2 separate regions of the Homo sapiens genome follow, and region 2 is linked to region 1. Evidence: fine-mapped expression QTL. A gene starts in region 1. The other region holds a variant in brackets. All regions are shown on one strand. Distances are from middle to middle. Region 1 holds the start of MIR4432HG (MIR4432 host gene). Region 2 has its middle 46 kb from the start of MIR4432.

What was found. PIP is the estimated chance that this variant, and not a neighbour inherited with it, causes the effect. A credible set is the group of variants that fine-mapping cannot tell apart.
Region 2: its variant is the best candidate, but not a certain one, in a credible set for the expression of MIR4432HG in whole blood (TOPMed, PIP 0.81).

Annotation. Positions count from the first base shown.
Region 1 is chr2:60,387,754-60,397,321 of GRCh38, forward strand. It overlaps MIR4432HG (MIR4432 host gene), which reads right to left and starts at 3,622. Exons shown (of 2, transcript NR_132992.1): 1 at 3,553-3,622. It overlaps LOC102724142 (a long non-coding RNA gene), which reads right to left. Exons shown (of 2, transcript XR_007086327.1): 2 at 7,070-9,063.
Region 2 is chr2:60,336,928-60,346,495 of GRCh38, forward strand. No RefSeq gene overlaps it. Among named protein-coding and RNA genes, the nearest start is that of MIR4432, 46 kb to the right of the region's middle. RefSeq lists an enhancer at 68-257. The variant T/A (reference allele first, on the strand shown) is at 4,474.

The DNA of each region.
Region 1 (9,568 bases):
ACATTTGTGGGGCAAAGCCCCTGTTAATAACAAGTATTCATAATAACAGTGTCCATGGAGCCACAGTTGACAACAATACTCATTGAGCATAACTTTTTGCCTGGCACTGTTAGGTCCTTGTGCACAGGATCTCACCGAAACTTGACAAGGAACCCCACATGGTCAGTGCTATTATTGTCACCACTGTATAGATGGTAGGAAACTGAGGCTAGAGAGGTGACACAGTGGTAAAGGGCAGAGTTGCAATGTGAACCCAGCAGTTTGATTATGGAACATGGGGTTTTATTTACTAGATTACACAAACTCCTGTCAAATCCTATATGGCCATGGACGATACTCCAGTTCTCGGTGAAGCCCAGCTGTGACTGCTGAGAAGATTTACTGTTCTTCCCCACCTCCCAGGGTGTCCTTCCAATAATCCTCCATCACCTAAAGCAATGGGATTACGCCATAGTCCCCTTAAACTGCAAGCATCTAACTAATACAGGGACACAAGTGTTCCAGAGAAGTGGCTAGTAACAGCAAAGAATGACAGACCCTCCAAATGAGGTTTGGTGGCTCCCTTTTACCCTTCTGAATCTTAAAGGAAGAAACACAAGCTGAGACATTCTGGACAGGTGGCTGGTGCTGGTGAAGTTGACCTCTTCATTTCCATCTTCAGGTCATTACAAGGGCCTTCCCTGAAGCCAACTAAATCCTTGGACAGAGAGGACCTGAGGCTGGTATTGCCCTGTGCTGCACAGTAGACAGCTCTTCTCCTGAGGAAGGGCTGCTGGCAAGGAGGGGCCAGTGACCCAGACCCAGTTAGTCAGACCCTCCCTAGTACAGTCTGCTGATGTCATTGAAGAAGGCCATGTCCTCTCATCTCAGCTGCTGGCCTATGAGCCTGGGGCTGCCTGCCTCATGGAAAGTGATAGGGGAGAGGGAGATAGAACAATCTGGGCCAGGCGCGGTGACTCACGCCTGTAATCCCAGCACTTTGAGAAGCTGAGGCAGATGGATCACTTGAGGTCATGAGTTCGAGACCAGCCTGACCAACATGGTGAAACCCCGTCTCTACTACAAATACCAAAATTTGCCGGGCATGGTGGCGCATGCCTGTAATCCAGCTACTAGGGAGGCTGAGGCAGGAGAATCACTTGAACCTGGGAGTCAGAAGTTGCAATGAGCTGAGATCGTGCCACTACACTCCAGCCTGGGCCACAGAATGAGACTCCATCTCAAAAAGAAAAGAAAAGAAGAGGAAAGGAGAAGAGAGGAGAGGAGAGAAGAGAGAAGAGAGGAAAGGAAAGGAAAGGAAAGGAAAGGAAAGGAAAGGAAAGGAAAGGAAAGGAAAGGAAAGGAAAGGAAAGGAAAGGAAAGGAAAGGAAAGGAAAGGAAAGGAAAGGAAAGGAAAGGAAAGGAAAGGAAAGGAAAGGAAAGGAAAGGAAAGGAAAGGAAACGAAACGAAAGGAAAGGAAAGGGGAGAGCTGTGGTGGCCCTCGTGCAGGACAGGAGATGAGGCAGTTGTGTGGCCAACCTGTAAAAGGAAAACACTTCCCACCTACTGCAAGGTGACTCAAGGTGGAGGTGCCAAAATTAGGGGAAAAGGCTTCCAGCCAAGCACAGAGGAAGGGTATGAAAGAACTTTCTAATAGCCTCAAAGCAAGATCACATGAAGATTCTGCAAGACTGCACGACATTTTTCTTTTTTCTTTTTTCTTTTTTTTTTTTTTTTGGAGACAGGGCCTCACTCTGTCACACAGACTGGAGTACAGTGGCACAATCACAGCTCCCTACAGCCTCAACCTCCCAGCCTCAAGCAATCCTGCCAGCTCAGCCTCCCAAGCAGCTAGGACCACAATGTATGTGCCATTATGCCTAATTTTTCTATTTCTTTTAGAGTCAGAGTGTCCCCACATTGCCCAGGCCAGTCTGGAACTCCTAATCTCAAGTGATCCACCCACCTTGGCCTCCCAAAGTGCTGGGATTACAGGTGTGAGCCACATAGCCCAGCCACAACATTTTTCCAGAAGACAAATGGACTAACCTCATATTGATCCTGGGACTATGAAAATAGGGCAGCCGGCAAGACTTGAGCCAAATATATAGACTCTACTTCATAAATGAAAACCTCCAAAAAGTCCAAATTTAGTATTTTTCATGCTCATGCAAAGGACAAGCTTCCTCCTCCATTGAAAGGAAAGGAAGGGAGAAGATTTACTACAGGGTGGCCAGAGCTTTTCCCTGGAATGGCCCAAAGTTGCTTCTCTGTCCCCAGACAACTTGGGTTTGAGCTCTAGGGGACCATATATAATATTTTCTAGGTCCCTGTGAGTACACCCTTGATGTACTGGAGACGGGAGGTCAGATTTGATTTACATTCACAGGCAAAATTGAAGTTAGAACTCACCCCAACTCAGCGGAAAGGAGACTGCGGGACAGTGAGGACTCAAGGAGTAACTGTGAGGCAGCTTAAGTGAACTTCACTCAGGGCACAGTAGGTTTTCTTGTTCTAAGTAAATATCTTAACAGTTTCCAGTTTTACAAATTTAAAAACAGCTAAAAATATGCACACTTATATTTTCTAGTTTTTGCAGATGATGCTGAGGCAAGTTAAGAGGGAACATGCTAACCACCAAAACCATCCTCATTTTCATGACTAGGTGGACAGGGAGGAACCGAGGCTTGTACTGCCCTGTGTTGCATAGTAGATAGCTCCTCTCCTGAGGCAGGGCTGCTAATGACCCAGGCCCAGTTAGCCAGACCCTCCCTGGTATAGTCTGCTGATGTCATTGAAAAAGGACATGACTTCTTATCTCAGCTGCTGGCCTGTGAGCTGGGGCTTCCTGCCTCACGGAAGGTGAGAGAGGGAGAGGGAGACAGAACCCTGGCAACCTGGGACGGGCACAGTGGCTCACACCTGTAATCCCAGCACTTTGGGAAGCCAAGGTGGGTGGATCACCTGAGGTCAGGAGTTCAAGACCAGCCGGGCCAACATGGTGAAACCCCGTCTCTGCTAAAAATACAAAAATTAGCCGGGCATAGTGGCACACGCCTGTAATCCAGCTACTTGGGAGGCTGAGGCAGGAAAATCCCATGAACCCAGGAGGCAGAGGTTGCAGTGAGCCAAGATTGCACCACTGAACTGGGAAACAGAGCGAGACTCCGTCTCAAAAAAAAAAAAAACCCTGACAACCTGGTGCCAACCCCTGGATCCAGCTGTTCCTGTATCCCATATTCCTCTGCACTTCCCAGTTACATGAGCCAATTATTCCCTTTTTGTTTATTATTAGTTTGAGTGTCTGTCACTTGTAACTTAAATAAGCCTGCCTACAAATTCTAGCCAAGGCATTCATCTTCTGGCAAGCCTCTATAAAGAACCTGTAGGTGCTGCTTTTGAACACGAAACTCCCTGCTTCATTTGATCACTGACTACCAGAGAATGCAAACTCTTGGACAACATGAGCACAGCAAGTATTTTATCCTCAGTCCCTCCCCTTCCTCTGACTGTCAGCCTTCAAACCCAATGCCAATCCCATCCCCACTTCCCCCTGACTCCACCATCATTACCATTGTCTCCCTTCTTCGTCTTTGTCAAAGTACCTCACCAGTGAAAGAAAAGTGACCTCTGCTTCAAAAATGAATAACTGCCACGAATGCGGAGAGCCACAGCAAAGGAAACCACGCCTCCTTTGATAAATACCATGCAGCTGCTGCTTGGTGATGATGGTCTCGCCCTGGTGGAGCATTCTAGGGTCAGATGTTTACAGAGAAAAGGCAGGCAGGTGCCAGTGCTTGAACATCAGGCCAAATCCCAGGTTTCCCCAGCCGTCACTCATTCTCATGCACAAAGTAGAGGCCCTGCAATTGCTTCCTAAGACTCAGTTTCCTTATAGGTAAGCTGGAAAACATTTAGTATTAACAAGCACCAGAGCTATGTCAAAGGAGAATCATCCAAAACATTGCTGAGCCTTGACGAAGATGAACAGCACTCAGGGGAAGAATTCTAGGTGGATCTTTGGGTAATAGGAACCCTGAAAACAGCAATGATCCAGTAGGTGACATGTAGGGCGTGCCCCTCGCCTTCCTGGACTGGTGCTCAGCATTCCACTTGTATGATCTCATTTAATCCCCACAACACACCCATGCGGTGGGAAATAATTATCATCTCCACTTTACAGAGGAGGCTCCTGAGTCTTCAAGAGAATGTGAGACTTGTCCACAGTCACTCAGTAGTGCAGCCACAGTGACCTTGAAGTCAGGCCCGGTGTCTGGCCTTTGTGACCATGCCATCCCAGGGATGTAAAAGAACTCAACAGTTGCTCAGAATACCCCTTTTACCATCTCAACGACATGGGCAATCAAGGACTGCCTTGCTTCCTGCCGGGTTCCTGAGTGAATCAGTGGGCATGACTTTGAGAAACAGAAAGCTCTAAAAATCTTGGGTGTTATTACTGTCTAGGCAGTGCAGTCAGAGATGATGTTGATGGTGGTAGCCTGTTTTACTCATCTCACTCTCAGAGGATGCTAATCACATGGGTGGGAAATTTCATTAAACAACTGTCTCCTGGAGGCAGATGTTCATCCCAGAGCAGATTGGCATTCAGTCCCTTCCCCCCAGCTGGCCTGAAGAGCACTGGCAACGCAGGCCAGTGCTCCAGAGGTGCTGGGATGGAAGGTCCTGAGGTTAATCCTCTTCCAGCATTCACTATCCATGCACCCTCTAAGTTTCGCTTTCTCATCTGTGAATTTTCTCATCTGAGGAAGGGCTGCCGGCAGGAAGGGGCCAGTGATCCAAGCCCAGTTAGCCAAATCCTCCCGGTACAGTCTGCTGAAGTCATTGAAAAACCCCATGTCTTCTCATCTCAGCTGCTGGCCTGTGAGCCTGGGGCTGCCTGCCTCGTGGAAAGTGAGAGAGAGAGAGAGAGAGAGAGAGATAGAACTTTGGCAACCTGGGTTGGGCTAGGTTATAATAATACCTACTGTAGGTTATAATAATACCTGACTGTGAACTGGGAGCCATAATAATACCTACTATGGGTTTTCTAGGAGGTGAGAAGTTTGTCTTCTACTTTTTTTTGAAACTACAAAATACTTTAGACATCCAAAATGTAAGTATTAATATATAACCCACCAGCAGCTTAAGAGATAAAATGTTGTAACTGATGCACTCCTGCCCCAGTTCCATTCCTCTCCTTTCCTTACCAGAGGCAACCATTCCCCCAAGTCTGATATAGATCAAGACTTGGAAAACTTTCTGAAAAGGGCCAGATGGTAAGTAGTTGCACCTTTGCAGGCCACACGGTCTGTGGCAAGTATTCAACCCTGTCCTTGGAGTACAAAGGCAGCCATAGTTGATAAGTGAAAGAACAAGTGTGGTGGTGTTCCAGCAAATTTTATTTATGCACACTGGAATTTGAATTTCATATAATTTTCAGGTGTCACCAAAGAGTGTCCTTCTTTTGATTTTTTTTCAACTATTTAAAATTGTAAAACCCATTCTTAGCTCACAAGCCACGCAAAAGCAGGTGGTGGGCTGGACTTGGCCATGGGCATAATTTGCCAACCTTGGTATATATCATTCCCATGCATATTTTAATACTGAAACATAATATGTGTATATCCATATACAGTATTGTTTAGTGGGTCTTAAAATTTCATATAAATGGTATTATATGGTACTTTCACTTCTACAGCTGATCACTCTTTTTCAACATCAAATTTGCTGAGATTTAGGTGAGTTATTACATGTAACTTCAGTTAATTCATCTTAACTGCTGTATAGGAACTCACTATATGACTTTACCACAACTTATATGTAGGACTATTTATAGGATTTTACTATATGAATTCACTGCAACTTATTTATCCCTTCTCCTCTCAGTGGGCATTCAAGTTGTTCTACAGTTTTACAAATAAGGCTGCAAGAAGCACCTTCTGCATGTCTCCTTGTGCATGTGCACAAAAGCTGCTGTAGGATTGCTCTTCCTAGTAGAATTTCATGGTCACAGGAATGTTTGCTGATCACATAAAGCCAGGAAGGAAAGGGCTCATACCCAGCACCTTGTGTATCAATCACTGGCAGCTCCTGTTCCTCTGGAGCCCCCTCAAGCACCGGACAGAGGAATGAGCACATGTAAGTGCTTAATACACACTTTTTCACTTAATTCATAAAGACAGGGGGGCAGGGGGCAGGGGCAAAGGGAGGGAGAGCATTAGGACAAATACCTAATGCATGTGGGGCTTAAAAACTAGATGACAGGTTGGTACGTACAGCAAACCACCATGGTACGTGTATACCTATGTAAAAAACCTGCACGTTCTGCACATGTATCCCAGAAATTAAAGTAAAATTTAACAACTAAATAATAAAAATTAAAAATTAAAAAAGACCATCATGGAAAAAAATCTGTGGGACAAACAGTGGGACCTGTGAGTGATCAGGGAGAGAAAAACTCAGTTAGATGAAAATCTCCAAGAATGGCTTTTTAAAAAAGCAACATAGTTGAAGTTGGGAGGGATGGATGGAAAACAAATTCTTCTGATGAAGGCACTGACCTAAGTGGGCTCCGAGGTGGAAATGAACATGCCATGTGCAAGGAAATCCAGGAGACCAAGTAGGCTGGAACATTTGCAAAGTTCTTTTTGCAGGCATTGAATGCCAGGCAGGGGGCATGGGGCTTGACTTGCTGGTCAGTGGGAGCCCAGGAAAGGCCAGCCTAGGATGGCCAGGGCTACCCACTGAGTATGTTAACTCAGCTGGTCCTGTGTGGTGGAAGCTTGGGAGCAGAGCCTGAAATCACACACACCGTGAAAATAGTATGTTGGTGTTGTGGCTCTTCCAAGGCTGAGCCAAGCCTGATACAGCTTGGCCTTTTTTATACCGTATCTTTAAACCAATTTAACATTTTTGGCTCAGGCAGAAGTGGATATACTATTAGTCATTCAGCTAAGGCTGTGGAGGCTCACATTTCCCACTGTACACATAAGACAAACAATTATTGTTATTAAGGGAGAAAACTATGTTTGACATGAAATCAGAGAAAAAGAAAGAAGAACAAAGAAAATCAACAGCATCTCTCCATTCTTTCATTCAACATATGCATATTTATTAATCCCCTTTTGTGTGTGCCAGGTACAGCAGGGCCACGGGAATGTATAAAGCATGGCATGTACCATCCACCCAATGGGTTGAGAGAGCTACTGTTGTTTTCCAATAGTAATACAAAGCAGCATAGGGTAAGTGTCAGAACTAATCTTTTGAACAATTAACATAATAGAAGTTCAAGGGAATAAAGAAAGGCTAAGGAAAGCCTGGAAGAGGCACTTCCAGTTGGCTTTTTGAAGGACTTAGAGGCAGAGAGGGAACAGGAAGGAACCTCAAACAGACCGGGACGAGCAGCCATATGGCGGTGAAAATGAGCAAGACATATTTGGGCAGAGTGAAGCCCAGAACGGCATGCTCCTACACTCACTGTAACACAGCAGCACCCAGTGCTCCTGATTTGGGGATGCAGGCTGCCCCACACGTCAATATTCTCTCTTCCCCTAGCATCCTGGTGATACATCCTGTCCCCATCTTCCTCTCCCTCTTCCCAGACTCCTGTGGAGCCAGGCACCAGGGGTATGTTGGCTCTGTGGCTTGCTGGCCTTGTTACCTCAAGCAGATTGTGTAACCGCTCTGAAATTTCATTTATTTGACGGGTAAATGGAGTTGATCATGCCTCCACTCACCCAGCTGTTGTAAATATTGAAGGGATCGGCCACATTGGGTCACTCTGTAAGTAGGAAAGGATCCTTCCTGCAAACCTACGCCACCATCATGTCTACTGTGAAGTTTCTATATAAACATCTGGAGTACAGCCAGATGCAAAATCTGAAAGGATACCATCAAGCCATAAGCAAGAACACTTCATTTAAAATGGAAGCTCCAGCCACGGGTACTCTGACTTCTGCGATCCTGGCCCTCATCGCCACATCCCCCACAATGCCATGCAGACAAAAAGACTAGATAGGGCTGATGGATGGACATCCAGAGAGTTCCTGGCAATTGTTAAGGTTATGTCCAGAACTACCGCCATGCTGCTTTGCGTTTGGGCAGGACACCTTCTCTCTCTGGGTTAAATGTGAATGGCTCAGAAATACATGCTAGAAGTTCTCTCCAGGACCTTTCCCAGGTGGGGGTTAGAATCCTGGAAGACGGTGTCTTCAAAATGGAATTTCCACACCCTGAGTGCTGCACATGATGAACCACTGGGGTGTGGGGAGAAAGTATTAGAGCTTCTACCTTCAATTTTTCTAATATACAATTACATTCATTTTCAGTTGCCACCAAAATAAATTACCACAAACGTAGCAACTTAAAACAGTCCAAACATATCTCAGTTTCTGGGCCAGTTGAACTCAGTTGGATCCTCTGTTTAGTGTCTCAAAAGCCAAAATCAGGGTATCTGCAAGGCCTCACTTCCTCCTAAAGGTTCTGGGGAAGAATGCTCTTCTAGCTTGTCCAGGTTGCTGGCTGAATTCGGTTTCTTGTGGCTAGAGGACTGCTGTCTTTTCCTTGTGGCTGGCAGTCTTTGTTCCCAAAGGTTGCCTGTGTCCCTTCTCGTGCTTTCCAGGTGGGCTCCCCAGAAACAGTAGGTCGGGTCTTTCTCACACTTCCAATCTCTCCGACGACCTCTTTTGTCACATCTCTTTGACTCCAGCCAGAGAAAGCTCTCTGCATTTGAAGTCTCATGGGATTAGATTAGACACCTGGATAGTCCAGGGTACTCCCTCTAATTTAAGGTCTTTAACCTTAATCACGTCTGCAAAGTCCCTTTTGCCATAGAAGGTGACATGTTCAGTTTCCATGGATTCAAGCATAGTCACCTTTGGGGGGCATTCTGTCTACCACAATCCTCAAGGAAAAGGCTTTACACTCAATGACCGCTGTTGCTGTGGGACACAGGGTCAAGGTTACATATGATATCTGAGATGTCTTGAGGGAAAGGTGGGAATCTCACGACAAGGAGCAGTTGACAGTGACACCCTCACTTGCTGGTTTGCTTTTAGCACATAGTGACAGATGAAAACCTGTGCCTTCACAGTGGCCAAGAATCAGAAATGAGAGTCCAGTTAGTTCCCTTCTTCCATTCAGATTTATATGTCTCATATATCTTTCTCAGCTATAATCGCCCAAGTATTGAAAATCAGAGCCAGGCTTTTGACTCACTGTGCCACAAAGTATTATACCAAGATTTTTAAAAATAATCATGCCTATCCAATCCCATTGCTCTCACTAGAAATTTGATTAATAATAATATATTTTAATGAGAACAAAAAGGGTTTCAGATAGTTAATAGACAAAATCTTTTTTTTTTTGAGACAAAGTTTTGCTCTTGTTGCCCAGGATGGACTGCAATGGCACGATCTCGGCTCCCTGCAACCTCTGCCTCCTGGGTTCAAGCGATTCTCCTGCCTCAGCCTCCCGAGTACCTCGGATTACAGGTGTCCGCCACCATACCCAGCTAATTTTTTGTATATTTAGTAGAGATGAGGTTTCACCATGTTGACCAGGCTGGTCTTGAAATTCTGACCTCAGGTG
Region 2 (9,568 bases), 51 kb before region 1:
GTTGTTTAACATGGTGAGAGCTACCACTGAGGTTACTGAAGTAGAAAAAGGGGGTTATATGTTGCTGGAGAACAGAAACTTAGCAGGGAAATTAAAAACAAGACAGGCTCTGGGACCAAGTAAGTCAAAGTGATGTCTTCAAGGAATCAGGCTTTGCAGAGGTCCTGCGGCCCAAAAGTCAGACCCTCAATACCCTCCAGGGCTTCCAAAGCAACTCTGTTCTGCATCCCATCTCACAAAATAATTGGGAGCTACCAGCAAGATGCCTGCCACGAGAGGGCAGCTTCCTGGAGGGGGGCCCTTGAAGGATGGCGAGCCCAGCAAGGACAAAGCGTGGCAGGGTGAAGAGCAGTGTTTGAGACAGCAGGGCCCATCTGAGCCTGGAAGCTTGTTTTGAAGCAGAAGCTGAAGTTCTCCTTTCTGACCATGCCCCACCCTGCCGAGAGAACCTTGCCCTTCATGGGAAAGTGATTTGGGGAGCACCAAAGTCATCTGTGTCTTAGTTGTGTGGGGCATTGAGCTGTCTTGGAATTGTGACTCATCCACTCATGCATTGTGGTTTAACATAGGGTTCCAATGTATTAAAATTTATTCATAATTTCTAAATGGTATCAGGTCAGATTCGAAGATGAAAATAAACATCATCTCCTTCAAAGTTGAAGTCAATTAACCCAGGACAGGAAGAAGACTTCTAAGTGAGCAAAGAAAGAGGAACACATTTGTTTGGTGTCCAGCTCAGGATACATGGAAAACATTCCTTGGTTCCTTTTAGTGCGCATGGGCTTCTGTTTCCCAGAACTGTCCCAGAAAGATGTCTTCACTTTTCTAAGCTGCAAGTATACATAAGCATCAGGATAAGTCAGTAATTAAATCCCTACACAAAGCAAACTCAGATTTTTTTTTGCGTGTGTGTGTTCTTCATAATTTCCCATGTAGGCCTTGTTCTCTTGGCAGGGTGGAGCCCTGTTAAAAAGACCAAGCTGACATAAGCTTGCCTTCTAGCTTCCTGGGCTCCTTCTAGTTTCCTGGGAGCTGGACCCTATGCCCAGCACTCCCCCTTGCCATTCCCCAGTTGACATTGCCATGGTTGGTGATCACTTCATGACAGAAGCCACCTTCCTAGGCATCATTCTTTCCAGGGTCCCTGGAAGGTTATCTAGGCCTTTTGTTCTGAATAAGACTTCGAATTTTCATCAGACCTTCTGTACACATCTCCTACAGGGAACTTTGGCTCTATCTTTGCCAATCCTTTCTATAATGGGGGAAAATCTCATGATAGCATTCTTGCCTCCCCATTGTAGTCACAACTCAAACTGCCAGCCTCTCTTGCAGTTAGAATGCAGGCCTGTGACATAGTTCTGTCTTTGTACACACCTGCATAAGATTTTGCTTTAGAAATGAAGTGAGCAGTGTAAGGAACTGGGCTCAGCAAGGGAATCCCTTCGCTGACACGGTAGCATCAGTTCTTGGGAAGCAGCAGTGCACAGGGTAGAAATGACAAGTTCTTATCATTGAGTTCTCAGTAGCTGCAATGGTGGTTTCATCTTCAGGCCAGTTCTACAGTGCGGTTGGGGCACTTTTTCTGGAAACTTAACCTGGAATTTGCTTTCCCTGCCCCTCAACTCCTAATGATCCCAAATATTCAATAGATCCATTTTATTCTTGAAACAGGTGTTGCCGTTGTCTGTAACCAAGAATGTTGACAGTGGGCATTTCAGGAGCTGAGGGCATTTCGGGGGATCACTCTTCTCCTGGTCTTCAGTGACAGGGTGGGAGGCAAGGATCATCCCTTCCTGGGGATATAGAAAATTCATTCATTCACTCAATATATAGCAAACTTGTGAGTTAGGAGCAATCCTTTCTGAGAATCAGTGATGTCTGCAGATGTAAATTCCTTTGACACCCACATAAAGCTATAGCATAGAGGAGCTTCAAAACACACAGGCTTAAGCTTCCACACACACCCCTTTGCCCTCCTTCCCTGGCCCTCTCTTGATCTTTACTTCAATCCTCTCCAGGCAACCAGATCTCTCAGACCCTTCTCCTCCACTAACCTCAACCAAATTTGAAATCAACCTCTTTAAGGTTTAATGACCAAAATGGCTTGGAATGTTATCCTTTGCCAGAAGTATTTGTATGATACAGGAACTAGAGCCTTGGACTAAAAGGACAATGTCTCCTAGTGAAATTTCAGGCATCAGCCAGTCAATAAAGAAAATTTGTGTTTGATTTGCTTCAATTTTCATCTATTTGTTTGTTTTTACCAATGAGGATTTCCCTGGGAGACTACAAAGCTGTCATCTAGGAAGAAAGGACTCAACATTTGTGGGCCATCTACATATATGCAGGTGGTGTGAAGGATGCTTTTTCCAACATGACCACACTTACCCTGGCCCTCACCATTCCAGCCACACTGGCCACCTCGCTGCTCCTCCAACATGACACATGCTCTCTGGCCTGGGCCTTTGCACTGACCAGTCCCTCTGCCTGCAGCACCCTTTCCCCAAAGATCTCCATGGCCCACTTCTTTATCTTCAGGTATCTGCTCAAATGTCTGCAAGTAGACACACCTTCCCTGACCACCTGCCCTCCACCCATCATGCTTGGTATTCTCACTCCCCCAACTCTGCTTTATTAGTTCCCCACATCACTAATCGCCACATGGCATACTTACTTAGTAATTCACTGTCCAGCTGCTCCCAGCCCCAACCACCACCACTAGAAGATCAGTTCTAAACAGGCAGGGATTTTGTGTTTGCTCACTGCTCCTCTCCCCAGCACCTAGATCAATTATCAACACAGAGTAAGTGCTCAACAAAATCTGTTGACTAAATTAAACTCATACAGAATGATGCAAATATCATTCTAACTTTCAGAAAAATAGCGATGTTTAGAAAAATTAAATTGTTCAAGGTTCATTAATCCATTAAGCCTTGCACCCAAACCTGAATCTGTGCAGCAAGAAAGACCGAGCTTCCTCACCCCTTCCTCCCTAGGCAAGTTAATCAGAGGGAGTATTCAGGGTCATGCCCTCAGCTCCTCAGTGGCCATCCAACCCCTTCCTGATGGGTAACACTTGCATAGCTTAAGGTAACATCAGTTTCTACAACTGGTAAACCTTCATATATAAGTGGGTTAACCCAATAAAAGAGTGTGATACAGGTATGCTTGGTAGGAACATTCTCCTCCAAGTGGTGAATCAGGGACCCAGGCTCTTTCTGATTTATGGATCAACTACCTTCAACACATGGCTCTCAAGGTGGTCCTGGAAATCACTTCCATTCTAGCCATGGAATGAGCATGAAGATCACCTAAGGGGGTAGAGGAGAAACACTTCTACTCACATGACATTGGCCAGCTCTCAGTCACATGGCTACACCCAACTGCAAGGGAGTCTGGGAAATATAGTGTGGCCATGAGCCCAAGAAGAGGAGAAAAGAGGTGTGGTGATAAATAACCAGTCTCAGAGGATCCCCTGTCATCTTCTATTAGTAACCTAGGTTTTAGAGTAGGCCAACTGCTGAATGGAAAGGTACCAGGAAAGTGTTTAACCACCTAGACCTGGAATTCAAGCAATCTTGGGCTCATGTTCCAGGCTCACCATTGACTAGATACTTAACCTTAGTCTAGGTACTTACCTGTCTGAGTCTCAGTTTCCTCAGCTATAAAATAGGGACAGTACTAGTAACTACCTCATTGGGTTGTGGTGAGGAACAGCTGAGATCATGCCTGTTGGGTATGTAGCAGTCCTGACCAGAACTGTTATGAGGGAAAAGATGCTCCAAAAAGGGGTCCCAGCTTCCTCCCCCAGTGCTCTTACATCCCAGCAGGCCAGCAATTCAGAGAGCCACTCTGGGTCTCAAAGCTTAAATGAGACAAGGTTTGTCCCCATTTGACAAATGACCTGTGAGTCCTCTCTGTTGCATCCTATTGATGGTTTCTGACAAATCCCACAGTATCAGTTTGCATAAGTAAGTTTGAAATGCCCTTTCCATTAACAGAGGAGCTCTGCTATTAACTAATTACACTTTGGCTTTTCCTGTGTAAGCCACCGTGCCAGGGAGAAGAGGCCAAGCGTGAGGTGGCCTCTGGTGTGGCAAGAAGGTTTGTGCAGACTGGGATGGGCAGGGGCTGGGGTGAACGTGGGGGCTGCTCCTTTCTGTCCTTTCCTTTCTATAAATCCAGTTATTGGGACAGTGACCTTTGGAGGAGTGGCTCCCAATTTCCCACACGAATGTTTTCAAAGGATTTGGGACAACTCCAGTTTTCAGAAAACTGCTGATATTCAGAAAAAGACTAAATGCACTGCTCAAGGTTACGAGAGTACCTGAATCCATTGTGAGGTGGGGTCCTGACAGAAGAGCACTGTTCTCAGAAGCTACAGCCTCCAACGTGGTTCTGACCCCAGGGCCGACACCTGCCAGGTCAGTCCCAGGCCTGACCGGGGAGCAGTGGTCTGCCTATTCTGTCTTC[T/A]GCCATGCCTTCCTCCATGTTGGTCAAGAAAAAATTTTAAAAGCCTAGGTTTTAGAGTGAGTCAGATGTGGGTTCAAATCCCAGCTCTGCCACTTACCTCCAGCAAGTTATACCCCGACTTGGAGTCTCAGCATGCTTGTGCGTTAAATGAGACCTAGCTCAAGGAGTTACCACAGGATTAACTGTGGAAAAGGGTAGCTCCGAGAAGAAACCAAGGAAACATTAGTAGGTAGGTGTTCCTACCCTACTCTCACCCTGAAATCACTCCCTTTTCTGTAAGCCTTGATGTCACCAAGCTGAAAATGCTTTTGAGGGATTGCCCCTCTCCAGTGTATTCTTACTGTAACAATAGATGCATTGGGTAGCTGACGGGTGAGGAGTTTGCCATGCCTTGAATATTGAGATTTAGACATCTCTGTAACACTGACGGGTGGGCCCGACAGAAATCCATTTAATTGGTTCTGAAGAGCCTCTTGGGGGGCAACTGCAAGTGAGAGAAGGAGTCACAGATTATGAGCTTTATCCAATAGAAAGCTTTTGACATAGGAAAGGAATTGGGATTTTGAGTTAGGATCACTCAAATCTATTCCTATCCCAGCTGCATAGATCGGCATCTAGTTACTGGAAATAGAAAGTAAATAAATAAAAACAAAAAGAACGAGCTCCACTTCCATTTAGGTTGCCAAAAATTGCTGAAGACTTGCTCCCATCCTAACAATGAGAATGAACCAGGTAAGCTACAATATCACAATTGTTTAAAACCTATCAGAGAGCTTCAGATGCAAAGAAGTGAAATGAACTAAATTTCAGAAAGTGAAGATTCCTTCCTAGCAAGAAGAGAGACATTTTCATCACTGGGAAGGAGCAGAGAAAGATGAATCTGCCATGGATAGGGGTAAGGAGAAACCACCAAACTTTTTTTTTAATTAATTTTGTTTTTTTAAATTTATTTATTTTATTTATTTATTTTTTTATTTTTTGAGACAGAGTCCTGCTCTGTCGCCCAGACCGGAGTGTAGTGGCACAATCTCGGCTCACTGCAACCTCTGCCTCCGGGTTCAAGCGATTATCTTTCTCAGCCTCCCGAGTAGCTGGGATTACAGGTGCCTGCCACCATGCCCAGCTAATTTTTGTATTTTTAGCAGAGACAGGGTTTCACCATGTTGTCCAGGCTGTTCTCAAACTCCTGGCCTCAGGTGATCTGCCTGCCTCGGCCTCCCAAAGTGCTGAGATTATAGACATGAGCCACCGCACCCAGCCCCACCAAACTTTTAATAGAATTGCAGCAGTGAGTGGGTTGGCATGGCAGATTAAGACCCTGGGGAGTGTGTGTCTGTACCAGTCCACAACCCTCTGCTATTGTTCTTATCTAGTGCACAGGGCCAGTATGCTGTAGGGCTAGGGATGGTAGATTACCCTGAGATATCCAGGGCCTTCTCCAAGTGCAACGCCGAAGCTGGGGTAGGGCAGGAGGTCCAAGAGAAATCCCTCTGAGGCACCCGTGGCCTCCACTGAGCGCACTGCTACCGTCCTCCAAAGACGCAAGCAGGACCACTGGGTGGAGAACTCTCAAGAGGCAGACATTTGGGGGCAACGCTGGAGGGCAAAGAGAACACTCCAGTGGGAAAAAGAAGAATAAAAGCTGGCAGCTATGTTGTAAAGCATAAAGAATTTTCTAGAATCTCACCAGTGTTCAGATCCCAAACTCTGCTGAAGGGAAAGCCATGACCCTTTCTTCAAATTGTTTGAAGCCAGTTGCAAAATAAGTCTAAGAAAAAAAGTGGAATGTTAACAAGGAAAATGTATTTTTTCTTCTTTTTTTTGAGATAGCAGCCAAGTACTTTCCAAAATCAACCCATGGATCCAGGAAGCTCAGTGAACCCAAATAGATAAATACAAGGAAAACCATACCTAGACATCACACACACACACACACACACACACACACAGACACACACACAATATGTATATTTCCAACTTCTGTAGAAAAAAAAGACTCACTGTTAAAAGCAAAAATGATAATATATTATGGAGTTTATAGCATAAATAGAAGTAAAATATATGAAAACAATAGCATAAAGGGCAAGAAGCAGGTGAATGTAATTATATTGCTGTTTCTTGCATTGCCATTCATTAGGAATGTATTTGAAAGTAAACTGTGATAACTTAAAATACACAGTCTAATTTCTAAAGAGCAAACACTATAAAAATAATACAAAAAGTATAGCTACAAAGTCAATAAAGAAGACAAAATAGAGTAATAAAAAAATACTTGATTTACCCTAAAAGAATACAGGAAAAAAATGAAGCAACGTACAATGAATAGATATGACAAATACCGGAATGATAAACTTAAACCCAATCATAAATGTTATTGTAGTAAATGTAAATAGATTAAATACATCAACTGTTTAAGGCAGAAATTGTCAGATTGAATAGAAAAGCAAGACTTACCTATATGCAATTTAAAAGTAACATGTTAATTATTAATATAAAAACAGAGATAAAAGAAGATAGATTGGGCTGGGCATGGTGACTCATGCCTGTAATCCCAGAACTTTGGGAGGCTGAGGCAGGTGGATCACTTGAGGTGAGGAGTTTGAGACCAGCCTGGCCAACATGATGAAACCCCATCTCTACTAAAAATACAAAAAAATTAGCTGGGCATGGTGGCGTGCACCTGTAGTCTCAGCTACTTGGGAAGGTGAGACAGGAGAATCACTTGAACTCAGCAGGCAGAAGTTGCGGTAAGCTGAGATCGCACCACTACACTCCTGCCTGGGCAACAGAGTGAAACTCTGTCTCAACAAAAAAAGATGAAGAAGAAGACGAAGAAGAAGCAGAAGAAGCAGAAGGAGGAGAAGGAGGAGAAGGAGGAGGAAGAAGAGAAGGAGGAGGAGAAAGATTGATTGAAAGGAAAATATTAGAAAAAGATGTTCCATGCAAACAATAAACATGAGAAAACTGGGGGCTATATTAAAATCAGACAAAGTGGATTTTAAGACAACAAATATTACCAGAGATAAGGTGAGTATTTTGTCATTTTTTAAAGATCAATTTATGTAGAAGACCTAATCATTATAAATGTATATATATATATTCATAACAAAGTTTCCAAATTCGAAAAGAAGAAATTGACAGAACTAAAGAGAAAAATAGAGAAATTCACATTCATACTTGGAGACTATAACACCTCTCTCTCTCAGCAAATGATATAACAAATAAACCCCAAAAAAATCAGTAAGGATATAAAAGGATTGAAATACCACTTTTAACCAATTTGACATTTATAAAAAACTATAGCCAAAATCTGCAAATACTCATTATTTTCAATTGCACCTAAAATATTCACCAAGACAGATTACATGCTGAGCCACAAAACAAATCTAAAAAAAACAAAGGTTCAAAATCATATCAAAGGATCAAAATAATATTCTCTGATTGCAATAGAAATTAGATATCAATTATAATTAGATATCTAGAAAATCTTGTAATATTTCAAAATTTAAGTAACCACTTCTATATAACCCATCAGTCAAAGAAGAAAAAAAAAAAAGGGAAATTAGAAAATATTTCCAACTGAAGAATAAAAAACATACAACATAAGAAAATTTGTAGGATGCAGATAAATCTGGACTTAGAGGAAAATTAGGGCTTTAAATGTCTATATTAGAAAAAAGGACTGAATCAAAGACCTAAATTTTCACCTTAAGAAGCAAAAAAAGGTCAGGCACGATGGCTCATGCCTGTAATTCCAGCACTCTGGGAGGCTGAAGAGGGAGAATTTTTTGAGGCCAGGAGTTCGAGACCAGCCTAGCCAGCATAGTAAGACCCCATCTCAACTGAAAAATAAAAAATTATCTGGGTGTGATGGCACACACTTTTAGTCCTAGCTACTTGGGAGGTTAAGGCAGGAGGATCACTTGAGCTCAGGAGGTAGAGGCTGCAGTGAGCTGTGCTCATGCCCCTGCACTCTAATCTGAGTAACAGAGCAACAACTCAATTCAAAAAAAAAAATGAAGCAAGAAAAAAATAACAAATTCAAGGCAACATTAAGTAGAAGAAAACAAATAATAAAATTTAATAGCAGAAATAAATACATCAGAAAATAGACAAAAAAGTTAAAAGTTGGATACTTGAAAAAATTAATAGAACTGATCAATTTTTGGCAAAATCGAGCAAGAGGAAAAAACACAAATCACCAAAAGCAGGAGTAAAAGAAGAGACATCACTGCAAATTTTAAAGATATTAAAAGAATAATAAGAAGATTTTATAAACAAGTGGATGCCAAAATATCAACAATTTATACAAGATGGAAACATTTGTTGAAAAATAAAATGTACCGGAACTGAAGTAAGAAGAAATAAATCTAAATGGTCCTATGTCTGTTAAGAAATTAAACTCATAATAAACTACCTACCAAGAAAAACTATCCAGGCTCAGACAGCTTCACCAATAAATTATGTAAATATTTAAGGAAGAATTTATACCAATCTTAGATAAGCACTTTCAAAAGTTAGAAGAGGGAACATGTCACCAGTTGTTACATGACATTCATATAACTCTGATACCAAAACCTAACAAAAACATTGTGTAAGGAAATTATATCCATTCTTACCCCTTTTATTCAGTATTATACTAGAAGTCATAGCCAGTGAAATAAGCCCAAAAAAAAAAAAGAGAGAAAGAAATATAACACATGAATACCAGAAAATAATTTAAACCATTGTTATTTGCAGATAATATGATCACATATGTAGAAAACCTTACGGAATCAATTTAGCAAGACCAAAATTTTAAAAGTAATTTAATTTTTATGCAGTACCAATAAAAAAATGGACAATAATTTTTGTATCCCATTTACAATATCATCAAAAAACATTCAACATTTAGAAATAAAAATACTGAAAACTGTACAGGGCATAAAAATATTGCAGAAAAAAATTAAAGGTAAATAAATGTAGAGATGTCATGCTCATGAAGTGGAAGACAAAATATTGTCAAATGCACATTCTCTCAAAATGAATCTACATATTCAATATCATTAAGATCAACATTTCATGTGCCTTTTTGAAAAATTCACAAGCTGATTCT